Linked DNA regions of Homo sapiens: region 2 is linked to region 1. The links come from fine-mapping of genetic effects on gene expression. Tissue or cell type: whole blood. Region 1 holds a variant in brackets; the other region holds the start of a gene. All regions are shown on one strand. Distances are between the middles of the regions. Region 1 overlaps SHTN1 (shootin 1). Region 2 holds the start of SHTN1 (shootin 1).

What was found.
Region 2: SHTN1 starts here. The variant in region 1 is fine-mapped to the expression of SHTN1 in whole blood (INTERVAL, PIP above 0.99).

Annotation. Positions count from the first base shown.
Region 1 is chr10:116,954,041-116,964,977 of GRCh38, reverse strand. SHTN1 (shootin 1) reads left to right here. Exons shown (of 17, transcript NM_001127211.3): 4 at 4,748-4,842; 5 at 10,768-10,936. Among named protein-coding and RNA genes, the nearest start is that of SHTN1, 46 kb to the left of the region's middle. The variant C/G (reference allele first, on the strand shown) is at 6,279.
Region 2 is chr10:116,998,213-117,009,149 of GRCh38, reverse strand. SHTN1 (shootin 1) reads left to right here and starts at 3,963. Exons shown (of 17, transcript NM_001127211.3): 1 at 3,963-4,128. The coding sequence starts at 4,071. RefSeq lists silencers at 3,787-3,866, 4,097-4,206, 4,078-4,372 and an enhancer at 4,187-4,880.

The sequences.
Region 1 (10,937 bases):
TATTTATTTTTGAGATGGAGTTTTGCTCTTTTTGCCCAGGCTGGAGTACAGTGGCGTGTTCTTGGCCCACTGCAACCTCCGCCTCCTGGGTTCAAGTGATTCTCCTGCCTCAGCCTCCCAAGTAGCTGGGATTACAGGCAGCTAACTTTGTATTTTTAGTATAGACAGGGTTTCACCATGTTGGCCGGGCTGGTCTCGAACTCCTGACCTCAGGTGATCTGCCTGCCTTGGCCTCCCAAAGTGCTGGGATTACAGGCATGAGCCACCGCGCCCAGCCCCTTTCATGTCTTTTCAGCCACAATATTAGATCCATTAATCTGTTTTAAGGACACACCGATTTTCCTACATATATGCCAACTTTCATGGCTCTTTCCTTACCACATGGAAAACTTTTGAAGTAGTGTGATGTTGAAGAAGAATTTGTGATATGTTCACCACATATGCTTTAGAGATATTCTACATCTAAATATCGCTGGGAGTTAGAGTTGGGAGAGATTTGCTCTAGAAGCAACATCATTGGTGGTGACACCTTGTATAATGAATTAGAAAGGACTATAGAAAAGTAGAGTCACCTAGAAATGGTTTTAACTGGGTTTTACCAGTTAGAACTCTGTGATTTGGAATATGTTATTTAACTTCTCTGGGCCTCCGTGTTCTCAAATATAAAATTGCTGTGATGATCCCTACGTTATAGGATTGTTGTGAGGCTTTGTGAAGGAGGGAACACATGTAAAGAGTTTAGCACAAGGCTGGACACATAGTCAGGCTCAACAAATGGCGATGGTAGTTGTTTCCTAAGCAATTCTATACTACAGAGAACATTCTCATAAAAGGCTGTTCACAGGCGAGCTTAGGCCTTCAGTCCTTCAAATAGACACTAACACGAGCACCTGCTTTGCATGTAGCATTGTGCTAGGTGCAAGAGAATCAGACATGTAAAACAAAATCCCTGCTCTAATGTTCATAGTGAGTAGAAGATAAAAACAAGTAAAAAAAAAAAAAAACAGTTACCCTACAATGTGATGTGTACTACACTGCCATTTATGTAAGACTGCTTTGAAGTCATAGTTGAAGAGAGACAAACTTCGCTAATTCAAGTAGACTAATAGAAACAATACTTGATGTACTTTTATGTTATACTTCTATGTTCTCAGGGTCATTAAAATTTTTTTACTATGAAAAATTTCAAAGTGATGCAAAGGCGGGAAAATAATTTAACGAATCCCCATGTTCCAGTTTTCTGGCTGCAACAGTTGCCAACTCACAGCCAGTCTTCCAACTGTACACCCATACACCCACTGTCACTGACCTCAGATTGCTTTGGAACTAATTCCAGTCATCATATCATTTTACTGTTTACTGCCTGGAAATATTTCAGTATATATTTCTAAAAGATTAGTAGTCTTTTCTTTTTAACATAACTGCAGTATTACGGACACTTTATTAAAAGTTCATCTTTTTTCTTTTTTAAACCTCATGTCATCCAAATATGCAAATATGACAAGTACAGTGGCCATGGATTGTGGATATCCTGAGACAAGCCCAATTCAGAACCATAGGGCAAATTATTACATGAATAGCTAAACGTTTAAAAAACTTTTATTATGGCCGGGCGCGGTGGCTCACGCTTGTAATCCCAGCACTTTGGGAGGCCGAGGCGGGCGGATCACGAGGTCAGGAGATCGAGACCATCCTGGCTAACACGGTGAAACCCCGTCTCTACTAAAAATACAAAAAAATTAGCCGGGCGTGATGGCGGGCGCCTGTAGTCCCAGCTACTCGGGAGGCTGAGGCAGGAGAATGGCGTGAACCCGGGAGGCGGAGCTTGCAGTGAGCCGAGATTGCGCCACTGCACTCCAGCCTGGGCCACAGAGCGAGACTCCGTCTCAAAAAAAAAAAAAAAAAAAAAAAAAAAAAAAAAAAAAAAAAAAAAAAAAAAAAACTTTTATTATTCAAAATGTGCAAATAAATTTACATATTAAAAGTATTTCTGTTTTGCGTCATGTGACTTGACTTTTGGTTTTGGAAATGGGGTCATGCTTTTTAAAGATATAATCACCCTTTGAAATATACTCTTCCCATATGAACCTAGAACATTGGTAAGTAGGTTGTTATGCTACCAGTTTAGCACTGGAATAATTTCTTAAACTAAAAATTAATGCGCAATTTAAAAAAATGTCTACTGTTCTCTCTTTGAGAAGAAATAAAAACCCCACCAGATGGAGTGTACCAAATCAGAACTGGAGAAAATGTGAGCAAGGACTACCCAGCTATGTTTATCAAGTTGAATCACAGGGCACCTTTTTACAAAATGTTCAGAAAATAAATGTTTTTTTTGTTTTGTTTTGTTTCCTATTTGCTAGGCCTAAACCTCACTACTGTGGAATGAATTTTCTTACTCTTTCAAGAGCAAGAATGTTATTGAATAAAAAGTAAGATTCCTATGAAAAATGCAGAGTGTTTATGTTTTTGTTATGATAGTGGAAATACCAGATTGTGGCAGAAGATGTCAAGTAGTTAAGGCTAAAAATTCAAAGTAATATTTGATGTTGTAAAAATTGTATAGGTTTCTTTTCTCTTTCCTTCACATTTTTGAAGAACCTACCTTGTAAACATAGTGATAAAATGCCAGGAATATTAGGATTTTAAGGAAATAATAGAGCCTATTATTTAAACTACAATATAAAAGGCAATTATATTGATGAAGAGCTACATGGGCTTTGTGTGTGTGAATAAACTTGGCCTGTGTTCAGCTTCTATTTGTTCTTCTGGCATAAACACATATTGTGTGTGATTCCAGTTTAATGGGGACCCGTTTGTATGCCAAGCAGCTGCATTTTAGGACCTATTGCGTGATTTCATAGCTCTCTGAAAATTGGTTCTATTCAGAACAAGAGATAGAAGAGAAGAAGGGGGGTGATGTGGAAGGGGGGGGGAGCTTCAACACACAATCATTTCTTTTCAATTGGAGCCAGAAAGGTTGATGACAACATGACCATTGTGTTATAATGATAAGACCACTAAGGCATCTGTACCTCTCATCAAGGCTTTCACACAACAGCAGATACAATTTAATTCACTGCTCTGTCAGCAGTGCTGATACCATTATGCCGTCTGTCTCCACAGTTATAATCACTGTCCTCTGAGAAATGCAGTTGAAATGATCTTGAGCAGTCAAAGAAACTCTCAATTAAGGCTGCCACTTCCAATGTGTCAGATTGTGTCTTATGCACTTGGTACAATTTTCACTTCCAATCCTGTTTATTTACAATGTCTACCAGTAATTACGCTTAACGTGTCATTTAGTGAGGGGGGCCCCTGCCAAGCCGATTGTTGGGTGCTGCTGTACCATTGAGTGGGAGTTTCTCGAAGTCAATGCCATCAGCAGCTTTTAGGCCCTGATGGGATGCAGTAGTAATGTTGATAATGCAAGTATCGTGCTCATCAAGTCATAATTAGATGCCACTCAAATGTGCCACTTGTAATAACAGTGTTGATTCATGTTTTTCTCGGTGACTGCAACTACTAATTAGTTAAGTGGTTTTTGGTTGGCCTGCATTTGCTGCAGATTATTATTACCCCTGAAAAAATGTCAAGGTTAGAGATGTTTCTGGCCATTTAGTGCTGCTTTATGAATTTGAATATTAACATAATAAGAACTTTGGACAGACTTAGGAAGTAATACATTTTTGTATTTAATTTGGAGAGAAATTTTTTCCCCTGAGTTTAATCATAATTGCAGGTTAATTAAGCTTAAATGAAGCAAAAGTAATCTCTCTTTGTGTTATGTGAGCCCAGTGCTTTTTGCCTAACTTTGTTGGGTTTCACATTTGGGTGTCCTTTAATTTTTTTTTTTTTAAGCCAAACAAATAGCAATAAGTAATGTCTACATTTAGGGTTGAGATTCTGAGAGTTTTCATTTAACTAGAAATATGGGTGGAAGGAATTGGCATTTTTCTTTCTTGATCTTCAAAATATAACTCAAGTTCTAAATCACTTTATACCTGTAAATCTCAATTTACATGCACCAGCTGTCAAAAAATCTAAAAAATACAATTTTTCGAGCATTGGTGACATATCAAGTAAAATTTTATTTTTCTTCTAATGCTTCTGATAGCCTATGATTCAGGAAGTAATTTATTAGCATCTGCTTTATAACCATATAGTACATAAATCTTACTGCTATACTTTTCTGCCTGAGAGTTACTTATGAAATAGCAGTAACTACTTTGTAGCTAATAGAGACAAATGTTGCAGTACTTAGCCAAGTCGCCACATCACTACTCCAGTCATAAGATCAATTTAAGATTTATTTTTCTTTTATTTTTTGTTAATTTTTCTTATTAGAGCCATGTGTTATACACTGCTGAGAAAAAGAAGTCATGCTGTCACTCCTCTTTATTTATGAAATATTCTTTTGTTTAAACTAGCACATATGTCTATGGATACATATATAGTTGCATAGAAAATAGACTTGTAAAAAAATCTAAATAGCGCTCTTAAAATGTACATAATAAAATGTATGTATGTGAAATGAATGTATTTTGTTGTGTTCTTGTTTCTTTCTACATTCAAATATTAGCTCAGATTTAATCAGGGCAGCTTCTCAAAAACCTTTTTTCAGTGATAGCTAAAGGTCTGGCTAGCCAAAGAATTGAAGTATTCTTAATCATGGGACGATGCGTGGGCTCCTGGAATAGCTGACTAATCTTTGAATGCTGAGATTTTTTTTCCCCCTCATTCCTAGTTTCTCACATGGTCATAGAGGAAGTTAATTTCATGCAGAACCATCTTGAAATAGAGAAGACTTGTCGAGAAAGTGCTGAAGCTTTGGCAACAAAGGTGAGACTTCAAATGAAGGAATTTTACCTGAGCTTTTAAATTTCAACTTGCTTTTCTAAGCAGTGGCTTCTATCTGGTTTTGCTTTTCTACTTCTCTAATCGATTATCTACTCTGATGATGAGGGAAATGTTAAAAGGCCTCAGAATCCTGGAATATGATTATGTAAATATTCACCTTAATGCAAAGGTTATTCCAAATTGTAAAAGGAGCATTTGTATGTGAGTATTTCAGCATTTGTGCTTTTTGCCTGTGAAAATGTGGAAAAAATGGTCCCAGAGTAGTGTTAAAGGGGACTTTGCAAATGTCCATGCATTTGGTTAAAATGCTAACCAAGTTTAAAACTAACCTGGTGTGACATAAAAGAGCAGTGAATGTCTCATATTTGAATCAGATGAAAAAGTCACCCTGAAGCCGTGCATTTCAGGTGATTATTTATGAAAGCAAAGCGAGGGCATGCTGAAGGTGACCTCCAGTGTTCCACTGATTGCCTCTTGCTGATGAATTTACCAAGTGTGTAATTTTCTACATTCTATCTCATCAGAAGTACATTATTATTAAAGAATGTTTTTTTTATCTCTGTCTTATGTATTTTGGGTTGGGTAAAATGCATCTGAACCACTTCATCAGAAAGTGGATTACAGCAATTTTCAACCAAATTTCATTAGTAATACTGGTTGTGTTTCTTTTCCCTCCCCTCCATCACCCACCTCCGAAAATTTCTTTGGATGTGACTGAAATCCTACTCTCAATAAATACATAAATAAATGTAATTTGTATGCATTAACAGTGTGCTTCCTAGAGGTATTTGCTTAATTGTTTGCATAACAACACTACATTAGAATTCATAAGATATTTAATCAGGACCTAACTAAGAATATAAATTTGGGTATGTAACTTCTCTCCTGTTATTCATCTGAAGAATACACAGCAATACACTTTAAAAACACTTTTTAAAAAATGATAACATGGGTATTCTCACATCATTTTTACTCTGCGGCACATTCCTAGAGTTCACTAGTCCGTAATGTTGTGTGAATTCTATTTTCATTTTTGAATTTCTTTCTTTGGAATAAGTAGAGAAAAAGTACATTTGGAGCCTGCTAGCTGCTCTGAATCTTCTAGTGTCTAAGGATATACTCTCTATTTTTTCTTGTTATTAACAAGTATTCCTGTTGTCATAGCACATCCAGAGTGAGGATACTGGCTACCTTTCAGGATTGGCAGAGTTTATGGAAGGCACTGGTTTGTGGGACAGTATATACAGGTTTTGTTCCTGGTTATGTAATTTTGGGCATATGTGATTTTGGACAAGTTAATTTTGTTCTCTGGAGTGTAGTATCTCATCTTAAATGACATGATGGACTAGAGTTAGGACTGGAGTTAATAATTTATTTGCATATGGCCCCTTTTAAAAAATTACTTTATTCTGTCTCCC[C/G]TTTTATTTAATAGGTGTTTTTGGGCAAGAGAACTCACCTCTCTGAGCTACAGTTGTCTTGCTCTAAATGCCAGGATGGACCATGGTTGGCTTCATCATAATACCCCAGATCCATTGGCTCTAGATGTGTGGCCCAGGCATGTGCATGTAGAAAAGCTGCCTGGTGACTGTTATATTCATTGCTCGTTACGAACCAGTGTTACCTAATCTCTAAGCTCATTTTTACAATTAAGTCTTAATAATAGGATCCTTACCTAACACTGTTTGTTGCCTGTTCTTTAAAAACCCTTTTTTAAAATGAACATATAGTTTATTTTTGAAGATATAGTATGAACTCATGGGGCCTAGAAAAAAATTTAAAAAATGGATTAAATCAAATACTATAAATGTGCTTGTTTGTTGTGAAAGACTGCTTTGAATGCAAAATGTGGAAACTTCATTATATGTGTGACTTCATTCTGATTTAAGTATCAATTGTCATTTTTGAAAGGAGGCTTTCAAAAATGCTCATTTTTTTTCCTGAGAGCAAAGTTTCTATAAATTCTTATTTTTCTAAATTTTTGCCATCAAATTAATGACAAATGGAATGTTTAATTCTGATGATGCAGCTTGACCTCGTAATTTTCTTTTTTTTCTTTTTGAAATGGAGTCCTGCTCTGTTGTCCAGGCTGGAGTGCCGTGATGCCATCTTGGCTCACTGCAACCTCCACCTCCCAGATTCAAGCAATTCTCCTGCCTCAGTCTCCCGAGTAGCTGGGATTACAGGCATGTGCCACCACACCCAGTTAATTTCTGTGTTTTTAGTAGAGACAGTGTTTCACTGTGTTGACCAGGCTGGTCTCAAACTCCTGACCTCAGGTGACCTGCCCGCCTTAGCCTCCCAAAGTGCTGGGATTACAGGCGTGAGCCACTGCGCCCAGTTCCTCATATTTTCTTAGAAGCAAGTATGGATACTTTGCTTTGCTAAAATGTGTAGATTAAACTGATAAATGTGGACCAGTTATTTAAGTCATATGATCCAAAGCCATTAAACTTGCTTGTTTTGTACCTTTAAATAGCCACTAAACTGGACAATATAAAAACCCTATTTACATTTGAATATAATAGTAGGTTCTGTTACTGTAGGGTTATAAAAGATATATTTTTGGCTGGGCACGGTGGCTCACGCCTGTAATCCCAGCACTTTGGGAGGCTGAGGTGGGCAGATCACCTGAGGTCAGGAGATTGAGACCATCCTGGCAAACATGGTGAAACCCCGTCTCTACTAAAAATGCAAAGCTTAGCTGGGCGTGGTGGTGTGTGCCTGTAATCGCAGTTACTCGGGAGGCTGAGGCAGGAGAATCGCTTGAACCAGGGAGTCAGAGGTTGCAGTGAGCTGAAATCACGCAGCTCTACTCCAACCTGGTGACAGAGAGACTCCATCTCAAAAAAAAAAAAAAAAAAGTAAAAAGATATATTTTTGCCTTAGACATAGAGGGGTTCCAAACAACAAGTAGCATGCAATTAACCTATAGCTTGATGAATAGCTACAATGAAATTACTTAGCCAAAATTTGTGAATTCAGAATTCTCAAAAATGTTCAAATAGTATGCACATAAGACCTCATGTCTAGGCCGGGTGTGGTGGCTCACTCCTGTAATCCCAGTGCTTTGGAAGGACAAGGTGGGAGGGTCACTTGAGCTCAGGAGTTTGAGACTTTGAGGCTGTGGTGAGCTATGATCATACCACTGCACTCTAACCTGGGTGACAGAGCAAGAACCCATCTCCAAAAAAACAAAACAAAAAAAACCCTCATATATATAAATCTTACATTTCTTCTTTCAAAATGCGAAAATGGGGTTTCAGAGAAGGATTATGAAATTTTCTGATTGGCTTTTTTTTCTTGAGCTGGTGACTTTGTTAAGTAGAGTAATTGTATTGCAGACAAACTGGTGGATTTTGGTGCCTGGTTTGATAGGGGCATTAAACCCTTTTGAGGGCAGAACTGTTAGCTATGATGTTGCTAAGGTATTATTGTAGTGGTTGTCTAAGAAGTAATATATTAAGCACTAGATGACAGAAACTAGTAGTTTCTTGAGTATCCTGGAGGAAGGAGAAAATGCCTAAATGAATACTTTGAAGAAAACTAGCTGATAAATGATTTCCAAAGGATAATTAGACACAAACTAAACCTCTTCTTACTATGAATAACTAACACTGAAGTTTTACTGTGTGGCAGTTACTATATTAAATACTTTATATATAATGTCTCATTTAGTCATCATATTGTGGGATACAGACTATCTTAATTCTTAGTTTACTGATGAGAAAACTGAAACATAAGGATTAGGTTAGTTGTAGAGGCAGAGATGGAATTTTATTGCAGAGCTGGGTTGTATACTAAAGCAATGCGTTTCTTTACATCAATGATTCTTAGTGTTGATGTACATTAGAATCACCTGGGAAACTGAAAAAGGGCTATGCTGGGCTTCACTGCCAGAGATTTGGGTATGGCATAGCGCCTAAGCATTGAGGTTTTTAAAAAGCTCTCCAGAGATTCTGATGGCCAGAGTTGAGAACCATTAGTTTAAATATTAGGATACAGAACCAGAAATTAAGTCTTAAATGTCTTCACTTTTTCCTTAAATTGATGTTTTCTTCTGACATTCCTAAAAGATGGGATAGTTTGAGAATTGACAAGTGAGGGTCCTTGAGCTTCGTGTGCCATGCTGTAGCATTCATGGTTTAAAGAACCCACAACAGTTTTTATCTGAATTTTCCAACTTAAGGAAGAGGTGTTGGGAAATGATGGGCCTCATCTTTTATCTTGATCTCCTAATGTAATGTGTGCAGACAGAAGCTAGAGTTGGAGACTGGGACTGAGGATAAAGGGTTGTGTCTGATTTCCTGAATAGAGCTTGCCAGTCTTCCAGGAAGAATCCATGGAAGAGTTCATAACCATTTCTTAGAGATTCTTCCTGATTCTCCAAAGAGGTCAGACAAACCTCTCGTGCTCCAGACCATGCCACTTTAGGTTCCATATTATTGGGGTAGAAATCAGATCTCCCAGATTAAAGTGGGCTGGGCTTTCTCTATGAGAAACCCTGAGGAACCCTAATTATGATCACAAATGAAAGAGCAAAGTCAGACCAGTGCTATGCTAAATATCTTATTCTAGTGTCAGGTTTACAGTGAGGAAAGGTAGTTATCTTTCCAATGAACTATGTTCATTTGTTTCCAATATCAATTATTAAATTCAGAGCATGTCTTCCTGGTCAAGGGCTCTAGTAAAGGAAATGTATTTGCATTTCTATAACTTACATTTTATAGTAGGGAAAATAATCTACTGATTACTTTGATGTGCGCAAATTAAGGAAAACTGTTTATTTTTTAGTCTTGGGAAGAGAAAATATGAGCAAAACCATATTGTACTTCTGTGGACATTGGAACATCCTTAGTCTTTGTGTGTGCTTTGTCCTAAATTTTCTTGTACATAAACACATTAGCTAAAGAAGGTGATAATAGTTGAATAACTGAAGTTAAAAAACCAACTCATTTCCCTGTCCGGGAATAAAAAATACATTAACAAAGTAGGATTCCTTTTTTTTTTTTTTTTTTTTGCTGTGAAGTAGAACTCTTTTAATAGAGATAGTAGAAACAACATCTTGAACTAGTTTAAACAAGAAAAGAAAATGATGTGGGATCTGTTAGAAATATCAGAGACTTCCATAGAATCTCTGAGACAGGAGCAGTTTAGGAATGGACTGGAGTCTGGGGCTTGAGTCTGGTGGGAAACCCTTTCTCTGTTGCTTTTCTCTTCCTTTCTCTACACATCAGCTTCAGTTTTAGCTTTTCTAAAAACTACCTTCCTCTTTTCCTTGATCCTATAGTGGAATGTGGTTACCAGCAGCTCCTGTCCAGGCACATGGAAAGAAACTCATTGCTCTGTTCCAGCCTCCAAATTTCTAGCGAGGGGATCTGACTGGTCACACTTGGGTCATGTGTTTAATCCCTGGACTAATTCGCTGTGGCCAAAGGGATGGGGTGTGCTTGGGAGAGCATGGCACTCCCATTGAAATCATGTGGAACAATGGAAAGTGGTAATGTCCAGAAAAGAGAGATGTTAGGCAAACAGACATTTAAAAGGTGTTCTCAGCACCACAGCACGCAGAAGATTTGCTTGAAATAAAGTGCCTTTTTTAAGACTATTAATGACTATAAATCAGAATTTTATTTAATCTGTACTGGTGTTTTATCTTAGTTCCTTATATTTCTCATCAGTTACAACTAGCATTTCCACTTGCTGCTGGCTGTAATCCAGACATCAGATCTTGGTTAAAGAAATAAATTTAATATAAAACCTTATTTAATGAATCCACTAATTGTTATGTCCTGCTGTGAGTGTTGATGAATATGTAAGACAAAAATATACTTAATTTGTCTATTGTTTAAAAATCCAAGATACTCATTTGGCTGCTTTTAAAATAACTGTTTTTATATTTTGTCTTAGCTAAATAAAGAAAATAAAACGTTGAAAAGAATCAGCATGTTGTACATGGCCAAGCTGGGACCAGATGTAATAACTGAAGAGATAAACATTGATGATGAAGATTCGACTACAGACACAGACGGTGCCGCCGAGACTTGTGTCTCAGTACAGTGTCAGAAGCAAATTAAAGG
Region 2 (10,937 bases), 44 kb before region 1:
TTTGGTTGATATTTTCTTTTCTTTTCTTTTTTTTGAGACAGAATTTTGCTCTTGTTGCCCAGGCTGGAGTGCAATGGCACGATCTCGGCTCATTGCAACCTCCTCCTCCTGAGTTCAAGTGATTCTCCTGCCTCAGCCTCCTGAGTAGCTGGGATTACAGGCATGTGCCACCACGCCCAGCTTATTTTTTATATTTTTAATAGAGATTGGGTTTCTTCATATTGGTCAGGCTGGTCTCAAACTCCTGACCTCCGGTGATCCACCCGCCCTGGCCTCCCAGAGTACTGGGATTACAGGCGTGAGCCACAGCGCCCGGCCAATTCTATAGTTTTGAGTATATTCAGAGAATTGTACAACCATTACCACAATTAATTTTAGAAAATTTGTATTACCCCAACAATTAACCACACACCTATCAGCAGCCATTCCCTGTTTTCTCCCAGACCTCCCCTACTTTCACCCCACCTCAGTAGATACTCACCAATCAACTTTCTCCCTCTATGGATTTGCCTGTTGTGATCATTTTATACAAGTGCAATCATACAATATCTGGTCTTTTCTGATCAAGTTTTCACTGAGTATAATGTTTTCAAATTTCATCTGTGTTGTACCATATATCAGTACTTTATTTTTATTACCAAATAATATTCCAATATTGCCATTTTCATATGATAATTAACATTACATTAAATAGCTCTGTACATAAGCCTTTTAGGATAGATTCCCTGATATAGAATTAGTGGATCAAAGACAGTGAACCTTCTTCTCCTCATTGTATTTCAATCTTATTTATCTGTATACCTCAAAAGATGACATATGTGATTTTACTTTAATTACCTGAAAAATTAAATAAAGATTAAAGAGAAACTCCTTCTTGACCACTGCACTTTCACACTCCAACCCCCACACCTTGGTCCTGTTCCCCTACTTTCTATCCCTAGAGACAGCCATTATCCTGAGTTTGGCACATATTCTTCCAATTCATTTTTTAAAAGTCTGTCCTTTATCTCTATGTATATATTTGTATATATATATGTAAACACACACATTTTTAAGGGTTTTAAATGACCTGTTATTTGGAGGTCAATAGTAACTCCAACGTGATGCCTGCAACATAAATCACTATGTATATTATTATTATTGAGATGGAGTCTCGCTCTGTCACCCAGGCTGGAGTGCAGTGGCATGATCTCGGCTCACTGCAACCTTCGCCTCTCGGGTTCAAGTGATTCTCCTGCCTCAGCCTCCCGAGTAGCTGGGACTACAGGTGCCCGCCACCACACCCAGCTTTTTTTATTTTTAGTAGAGACAGGGTTTCACCGTGTTAGCCAGGATGGTCTCAATCTCCTGACCTCGTGATCTGCCCGCCTCGGCCTCCCATAGCCATCACTCTGTATATTATTAAACGGAACAAAAACTAATTTATCACTTCTATCCTTTCCATCAATATTCATATCATATAAATAAACAATAGTGTAATGGGAGAACTGAATCCCAATAAGGACTCTAATAGCCCTCCTAATAATTCATACCATGTCCTCAAGTGAATGCCATATTGTATTTCAGGAGTTTTTTTTTTTTTTTTTTTTTTTTTTGAGATGGAGTCTCACTCTGTCACCCAGGCTGCAGTGCAGTGGCAGAATCTCAGCTCAGGAGCCTTTTCTAATTTTAAGGAGGATAAATGGGATTAATTGCAAGAGGCCGCAGATTTAGTATGGAACCAAAAGTTTGATTATAGATTTGATAATTAACTCATTCTTAAACTCCAGAAATACTATCTAACTACTGTATAATTGGAGTAGACAAATCAGCCATTAAAAAAAAATGGAACTTTGTGAACTAAGCCAAATATTTAATGGGCACTCTGCTTGTATTTGGTAGAGTGAGAGAGAATGAGTCAGGATGACTCATCAGGTTTAACAGGTTTCCCAACTGCTGGACAAAAGCTAAATGTCCATTATTTTTCATTAAAATCTCCCGGATTTTTTTATTATTATCTCCTGGGGATCTTCATGGCAGCTATCTGCAACTATCTTGAATTATCTTACGCATACCTAGGGAAAGGGCTGAATAATACAATCCCATATCAAAATTATTTTTAAACTTTAAACATTTTAATACACTGTATTAAAAAATACTATGCTGCCCTTTTAGATCATTCTACCCCTAAATCACTCATGCTAAAGTACTATATTGCCATTTTAGAGAAAGAGAAAGCAGTGCTACCATTTTTTTTTTCAAAATTTTAGTTAGCATGTAGTGAGTATCAGAAAGACACTAGTTACAGGATTTACCCATATCTCAACCTCACTCTACAACTATCATGGAGAAATGAACACAAGAAATGGAGCTGGGCACTTCCATAAAACAGCAATTGAGGAATGAGCAGCACTGTGCTGTTGCTGTACCCAAACTAAGAGCTTAGAGGTAGTGAGAAAAACCAAGCTGTGCAATAAGTCTAATTCAGTTTGGACTTATCTCCCATGCTTAATGATCAGTGTAAAAGAACTGCAACCTTCAGCTTATAGTCAGCAACCACAACCCCTTTCTCACAGACCTGTAATTTTTTTTTTTTTTTTTTTTTGAGACGGAGTCTCACTCTGTCACCCAGGCTGGAGTGCAGTGGCGCGATCTCGGCTCACTGCAAGCTCCGCCTCCCGGGTTCACGCCATTCTCCTGCCTCAGCTTCCCGAGTAGGTGGGACTACAGGCGCCTGCCACCACGCCCGGCTAATTTTTTGTATTTTTAGTAGAGACGGGGTTTCACCGTGTTAGCCAGGATGGTCTCGATCTCCTGACCTCGTGATCTGCCCGCCTTGGCCTCCCAAAGTGCTGGGATTACAGGCGTGAGCCACTGTGCCCGGCCACAGACCTGTAATCTTTATTAAAAACAAAAAAACAAAAAAAAAACAAAAAAAAACTGCATTATAAATTCTGGACTTGGTGTTTTGTTAATCTTCCTCTATTAAATCCTTACAACTCTTCCTTGAGAGTAGGTATCACTATTCTTCCTATTCTTCAGATGAAGTTCAAAGATGCAGGAGACTTGACCAAAGGTTAGCTCGCAACTAGGGGTTGGGGAGAAGCACCTTTGAAACAATGCAGACCTGCCACTTCTCTCCTGGGCATGGTCTAACACAGACATGAGTTCAAATAGTTCAGAGGGCAGTGAACTGGGACAAACGCTTGGCTTAACTGCCAGCCTCTGCTGCCCGGGGGCTGCGTGACCTTCGGCATTCGGACTGCAGTGGCACCCTCTCTAAAGGGAAGGTCATCCCGCCACCAACCAGATGATCTGCAAGGGCCCTCCAGGCCCCACCATCCACGTGCAGCAGGGTCCACGTTCTGACCACCTGGCAAACCTGGTGCGATGGGGGAAAGCTAGCCAGGGCCCTCCTTCACTCACGGCATGGTCATTTAAGTAGCTGGGCGGCCTGATTCGATCCTTGTCTCCTCTTCAAGGTGCAAAATGTACCACCCTGGGCCCGCCCCTGTGGGCAGCTAGGTTTTGCAACCGCGCCCCCAGAGTCTACTGCGGGAAAACTAGGGAAGAAGCCCAGGCGTTCATGGCTCATTGCGTCCCGCTCTACCTCTGTGGTTCTTTGGGAGCGACCCCCGGGAAGCGTCCAAAGTGGAGTTCCCACACACGCTGCGAACCCACAGCCGGTTTTCTCTGAACTCGCGTCCCTGAGTCCGGGAGGTGGAGGCGGAGAAAAGGGTGCGGAGCGACCCCACGCAGGGCCGCCCCCCCTCCCACCAGCGCGTCCTGCCGCGCCGGCAGCCACAGGCTGGCATAGCGGCTGCCGACCCGCCCTCGTTCCTCCACCCCCTGAACGGGACTGCTGGGCCCGCCCCGCCCCGCCTGCAGGTGAAGCGGCCGCAGCCGCCGAGTAGGTGCGTGGGGATGATCTCACTCGCGCGCTCCGCGCCAGGAGGAGGAGGAGCGGGAGCGGATCCAACTTCCGGGTAGTGGAGCCGCAAGCCACCGGCATCTTGCTTTTTCTTCCCCCTCCTCCTGTGTGCCCCGCGCCGCTCCCTCTTTCCCTTTTATTCCCGGCCCCACCCGCCAAAATGAACAGCTCGGACGAAGAGAAGCAGCTGCAGCTCATTACCAGTCTGAAGGAGCAAGGTAGGCAGCACGCGGGCGCCAGGTGTGGGCAGCCGCGGCCCGTGGGCGGGGACGGCCCCAGGGCGCTGGGGCCAGGGCAGTTGGAAGCCGGGCGGGAGACGTGGCGGCCGCCGTGGTCACCGCAGTAGCTCCGTCACCCGCAGAGAAGCGTCCTCCGTGGCCGGCGCGCCTGGGAAAGCTCTGGACCGAGGATAACGCGGAGTGTCGGGGCTAGTCAGGCCCCGCAGCTCGAGACCCGCTGCCCGCTGGTTGCGTTTGCTGGCGATCGGGGGCTGGGGGAAGGGACGAGGATTCAGTGCGGACGAGGTTGCACAGTGCCACCTTCCTTGCCGGAGAAGCGGGTGGGGCAGGATATTTTGGCTGCTTTGGGCGGCTCAGCTAGCTTGGCCCCACCCTTACACATTTGTTGGCGCTGGGTGGCCTGTAGGGCTGTTTCACACCCTTCCCAGCTTTTCGTTTGGATTCGGTCTAGTTCCTCTTTCCTTGCCCAGCTGGGATTTTCAGGCCATAATTTTTTTTTTAATCACTTCTCAATTTTAGCAGTTTATTAGTCAGCAAGGTCAACATCCTGCCAGTGTTGAGCTTTCAGAATTAACAGGGTTGACGCTGGGCGAAGGAGAGCCAGGCCATGCGCACGCATTTCTGTACTGCTTGGTAACTGGGGATTATCCTTTAATAAAGACCTGCTTCAGTCAATCATTTTTTTCATCAGTTACCACACTTCTGAACCAAACCAGATCAACAACCAAATGCTAACCTATCACATTTAAACACTTATCATTATTACCCTGACCAAAGGGTGGTCTGCGAATGTGGGTCAAGACAGGGAGGAACCAGCCGGGTGCGGTGGCTCACGCCTGTAATCTCAGCAATTTGGGAGGCCGAGGCAGGTGGATCACCTAAGGTCAGGAGTTCGAGACCAGCCTAACCAACATGGAGAACCCCTATCTCTACTAAAAATACAAAATTAGCCGGGCGTGGTGGTGCATGCCTGTAATCCCAGCTACCCGGGAGGCTGAGGCAGGAGAATCGCCAGGAGGCGGAGGTTGCGGTGAGCCAAGATGGCGCCGTTGCACTCCAGCCTGGGCAACAAGAACGAAACTCCATCTCCAAAAAAAAATAATAATAATAAATAATAAAGAAATAAAGGGAGGAACCATACAGATTTAAAGGAAGTAAAAATGTGTAGGAACATGTACTTTTCTGAATGTCTTGCTGACAAGACCATGTAATGGAAGGATCCCTGCTCTGTGGCAAAACCTGGTATTTAGTTGCAGCTCTTTCACTTCTCTTGGCCCAGCTCACCTGCTCTGTGAACTTGGAGGAGTCTCTTTCCTTCCGTGGATCTTCTGGTCAATCAAGGCCGACCTGACTAAAGGCGAGGGTGAAACTGGAGGACTTTCTGAGGTCCTGTCCAGTACTCTTACCTGTTGTTGCGTAAAACCACAGACACCGTTGGGAAGTGCTCCCGGATTCCTCTGAAGCCACACTCTGGCAAACAAATTTCAACATTACTGTTTACTGTGTGACCCTGGGGAAATTATTTAACCTCTGAAATGGACATAACACATTCTTCTGTGATATCCAGCATCTAGAAAGTGCTGGATAAATGTTAGTCTCTTTGGCCTTCCCAGCACCTTTACCTGGCATCCTAGATTAGCCTGAGGTCATAAAGTCACAAGCATCAGTGAATTTAGTGGGTGGACAGAATGCCTTTATCTGAAGTTTCTCAAGTGTTTTAGCGAGGGACTGGATTCTACTGACTGGTATTTTATATTTAATACACCTTCGCCCAACCCAAAACATTAAAACTTGATTCATATTCTAGATTTGTGGAGCTTTCATTATAGGTAATATCTGTCAGTGGATATCAGATCTTCTTATGGTTGGTCAGTTTTCGAATAATGATAAACATAAAAAAATTTTCCCTTTCATTTCTTGTATAATCAAGGGTCGATTAACAATGTAGATAATCTGCAAATTGCTTATATTTGATTTCGGAACACATTCTCCATTCCTATGTTGGGTTTGAGGCCTGACAAAAAGGATTTCTATATTTGTGGCTCTTTCTCCTATTGCATTGTATTGGAAAATAAACAAATCCTTGGCATTGGTATTTTTAGAGGATATATTTCCTTGATTAAGTGCATATGAAAGGTAATAGAACAGTTAGATATTCAAAGTTGTGTTTCTTAAAAGGTACACTTTTGGGGATAGTGAGTCTAGTTACAAAGGTGTTGGGATTTTTTCAGCCCACAGTGTGATTTTTATACATTTCAAAACCAGGTAGTTTGCTTGTCATTGGATCACAGACTGTGGAAACAATTTACTTCAAAAGTGTTCAGTTACTGTTTGACCTGTAGAACTAATTGGGAAGCTAGGGATTTGGAAGAACAGGTAACTGGGTCTTTGAGCATTTAACAGTACATACTATGATCAATTTTGTAAGCTGATGGTTGCATGGTTTATTTTTGAAAATAGTAATTTTTACTACCTGTTACTACCTTTTTACTCACAATGTTAATATTCTGAGTGATAATTCCACTACCCCTATTTAGTGTGAGCAAGAAGAACCACTATTTATCAAATATGTTATTTTCCCTTAATAATGCTGAGTAAACATATTTATTCATTCCTTCAACAAATACTTATCAAGTACCACCATATGTCAGGTCCATGTGGTAGGCACTAGGGGTGTAAATAGTGAACTACACAGTCCTTGTCACCAAATTAATTTTCTAGAAGAGAAGACAGGTACTATTCAAGTTATCATATGAATAAATGTACAATTACTTTTTTATTCTAGGATAGATTCTTAGAAGAAATGGAATTGTTGGATTAGAGGGCACGGACATTTACTTTTGCTAGACATTGCAAAAGTGCCCTCCAAAATGATTATACCAGTTCAGATATCCTTCAGCAGTACCCATTTCCCCACACATTGGTCAACTCTGGCTAATAGCAATCTTTATTCATTTGATGGCCTGACAAGTTTTTGAATTTTTGCCAATCTAATGGGCAGAATGTTACCTTTTAAGATTTGCATTGCTCTGGTTATTAGTGATGTTTGAAATCTTTTTACATGGCCATTGGCCATTTAGGTTTCATCATATGGGTCCTTCCTTAGTGATTTTTTTTTAAACTGATACATGAGACTTGTACATATTTATAGAAGACATGGGGTATTTTGTTACATGCTTAGAATGCATAATGATCAAGTCAGGGTATTTGGGATATCCATTACCTCCAGTATTTATCATTTCAATGAGTTGAGAACATTTCAAGTCCTCTCTTCTATCTCTTTTGAAATATATAATACATTGTTGTTAACTGTAGTCACCCTACTTTGCTATCAAAATGTTAAAACTTACTCCTTGTATCTAACTATGTTTGAACCCATTAAACAATCTCTCTTCATTTTGCCCTGCCTTAGTAAGTTTTAAGTCTAAAACTTGAACCAGTTCCCCAGGAGAGTGTTCAGAAAGGAGATTCCTGTCTACTCTAAACCACAAAGCTGACAGCAGCCTTCCCTAACGTGAAGCCTTTAGTGGTGTGGTGAATAAGGTTGCTTTTGACAAAAGTTGTGAAATGTAATGACGGAGTCTGTCATAATATGAACAATCTCTAATTTATACTTACCATTCCCTAAGCTCTATGTCTTATAAATCACACCCACTTCTGAATTACTTCAAAACATTTTATGTTCCCTCCTAGTGAATGGTATAATTAGCTATATTATGTCTTTCCAGAAAGTTATATTATGTCCCTTTAAAAAAAATTAGCCAGTGTGTGATTGCTTATGTTCAAGCAGATGTTGAGGTAATGAGGTAATTCTCCTTTTGTCTTTTTTGGGGCTTTATTTTATTGGACTGATTGACATCTTTAATGCACCGAGAAATGGCAACTTTGGATACTATTTCCGAGGCATATTTCCTAGCTACTAAAGTGGATATTTCCCTTACAAAACATCATACAATTTGCTCCCCCTCCGGAATTCAGTGGGAAAATGATAGACTTAGTTCAGCATTTGTTTAAGGTGCATGATTTTCTGTATAATTCATTCAGCCCACATGCATTGAATATTCATAGCCAGGCACTGTGCTAGGCATCAGAGAGATAGAGCTGAATAAGACCTTGCCTCTGCTGGTGAGGAGTTCCTGGTCTAGAGATAGTGCTAGGCATGTAAATTCCAGGAGGAGTGTCTGATTGGCCTAGTTTGGCCAATCTCATGTATTCAAATACTTTGGCCACGGGAGGGCAGGATACTTTAATTGGCAGCCCCTGCAAAGATTGGAGGAATAGTCCAAAACAGAATGGGGTGCACTACCATGAGGATGCTGACCGGGCAGACACAGACAACACATGTCTGCTAAACTGTTCAGTGTAGTAATGCCATGTCATTTCCAAGTTGATGAAATTTTGAAGAGAGATGGCTATTTAATAATAAGGACATACATAAGAGGAAAACAACCACCACCACCCCAATAATGGGCAATTTTTGGGCTAACAGTATTTAAAATGGATTTCCTATGGTGAGGTAATTGGTTTTAAAGCAATTTTAAACCTCTTTTCACCTTTAGAGTTAGTATCGTTTTCCCCAAGATTATTGAGATGATACTTAAGTTCACATGGAAATCTAGTCAAGCTTATTCTTAGAGCAAGTTAGTAATTAAAAGATGCATCCAGTATTCCATTGGCTTCTAGGCCAGGAAATAACTGGAGCATTATTTTGACAAAACAGTCTGAAACTATTGCCTACCACAATGACCACGTCAGTCTGGGAAAACGGAAGCATTGACAATCTTGGGTGCATATGAGATCAGCCAGTAGAAAGCTGTTTGGAATTAAATGTTGCCTTGTTTTCAAGTGCAAACTTGGTTTTACATCAGTATTTTTCAAAGTGTGGTACAAGGGCCAGCTGCATCTGAATCACCAGGTACTTATCAACAATGCATTTTCCTCTGAAAGTTAGGGAGTGGTTGCTGAAGAACAACAGTTTGGCAACCCCCCATGAGATGAACATGCAGTGTGGGCTAAGGAACTATGTCTTCTAGTCAGAATTTCACTATTTCCTTAATATTATTTATTTATTTATGTATTTATTTATTTGAGACAGAGTCTCACTCTGTCACCCAGGCTGGAGTGCAATGGCGTGGTCTCGGCTCACTGCAACCTCCGCCTCCCAGGTTCAAGCAATTCTTCCGCCTCAGCCTCCCAAGTAGCTGGGACTACAGGCATGTGCCACCACACCCGGCTAATTTTTGTATTTTTAGTAGAGATGGGGTTTCACTATGTTGGTCAGGCTGGTCTCGAACTCCTGACCTTGTGATCCACCCGCCTAGGCCTCCCAAAGTGCTGGGATTACAGGCGTGAGCCACCGCACCCAGCTGTGAACCTTTTTTAAAATAAATGCAAAAATAAACACATGCTCATAGAAAACAAGTGTGTAAAGTGAAAAGTACAATTAACTATTCTATCTGACCCATTGTTTCTCAATCTTTATTTCATTATCACTCTCCTAAGGAAACTTTTTAGGCGTTTTATGCACTGTGACTCTTTGAAGGGCCATAAGCCATTGTAATATCCAAGATCTTTTCTCTTATCTCCTTGAGGATGAAATCACTACATTGACAATGCATGCTATGACCCCATTCCCATTTCCCAAAGTTAACTACTGTTAACCTTTTGTTTTCTTTCCTTCCAGAAATTGTGTTTGTATGTGCATATGTATTTATCATGTAATATGTAATTTTTTATATTAGTACATGTAGCGTTGTCATTAAAAATTGATTAATGTTCCAATGTACAGACGTACCACAATGTATTTAATGTCCTCTGGATGGACATTTCTATCTTTCTTTCCTTGTTTTTGCTATTACAAATAATGCTTCTGGGCTGGTTGTGTTGGCTCACGCGTATAATCCCAGCACTTTGGGAGGCCAAGGTAGGAGGATACCTTGAGCCCAGGAGTTTGATACCAGCCTGGGCAATGTAGTGAGACCCCATCTCTCTAAAAAGAAAATGCTTTTGGCACTGGATTCATGTTGGAGACATCAGTGTGAACTCATGTTTAGCTTAATACAGGTATGGATGGTTACACATATATATATATGTTGGTATATACATATATTTTCTTGCTCTGTCAGCTGAGAGAGCCTAGATGCACCAGTATCAATGAGCACATCTAGAGCCCAGAACTTGGCTTCTAATGCCATTCTCGAATAAAACGAACAGGGTTCCTAGGAGAAATGGCTAATTTTAGGAAAGGGGCAGGAAATATACAAGATGAGCCTAGGGCATCTTGTAGTGTGGAAACTAAGGAAATGCACCAACTGATAAGCTGACATTGATGGAGATACTGTAGTCCCTGCTTACCCATGGAGGAAGCTATGTTTCAACACCTGCAGTAGGTGCCTGAAATCATGGATAATAACAAACCCTATATATTCCAAGTTTTTTCCTGTGCATACGTATCTGTGATAAAGTTTAATTTATAAGTTAGGCACAATAAGAGATAATAAAAACTCATAATAAAATAGAACAATTATAACAATATACTGTAATAAGAGTTATGTGAATGTGGTCTCTCTCTCTCTCTCTCAAAATATCTTGTGGTACTGTAGTCATCTATTTTCATACCATGTTGACCATGGGTAACTGAAACCCTGAAGAGTGAAACGGTAGATAAGAGGGAAACTACTGTCTGTCAGAGACACAAGAGCCGATGGAAAGAACATCCAATGTCCAAAGACGGAACTCTGAACAACAGAATATTGGATTATAATTCAAAATTTGAAGTAATATTCATG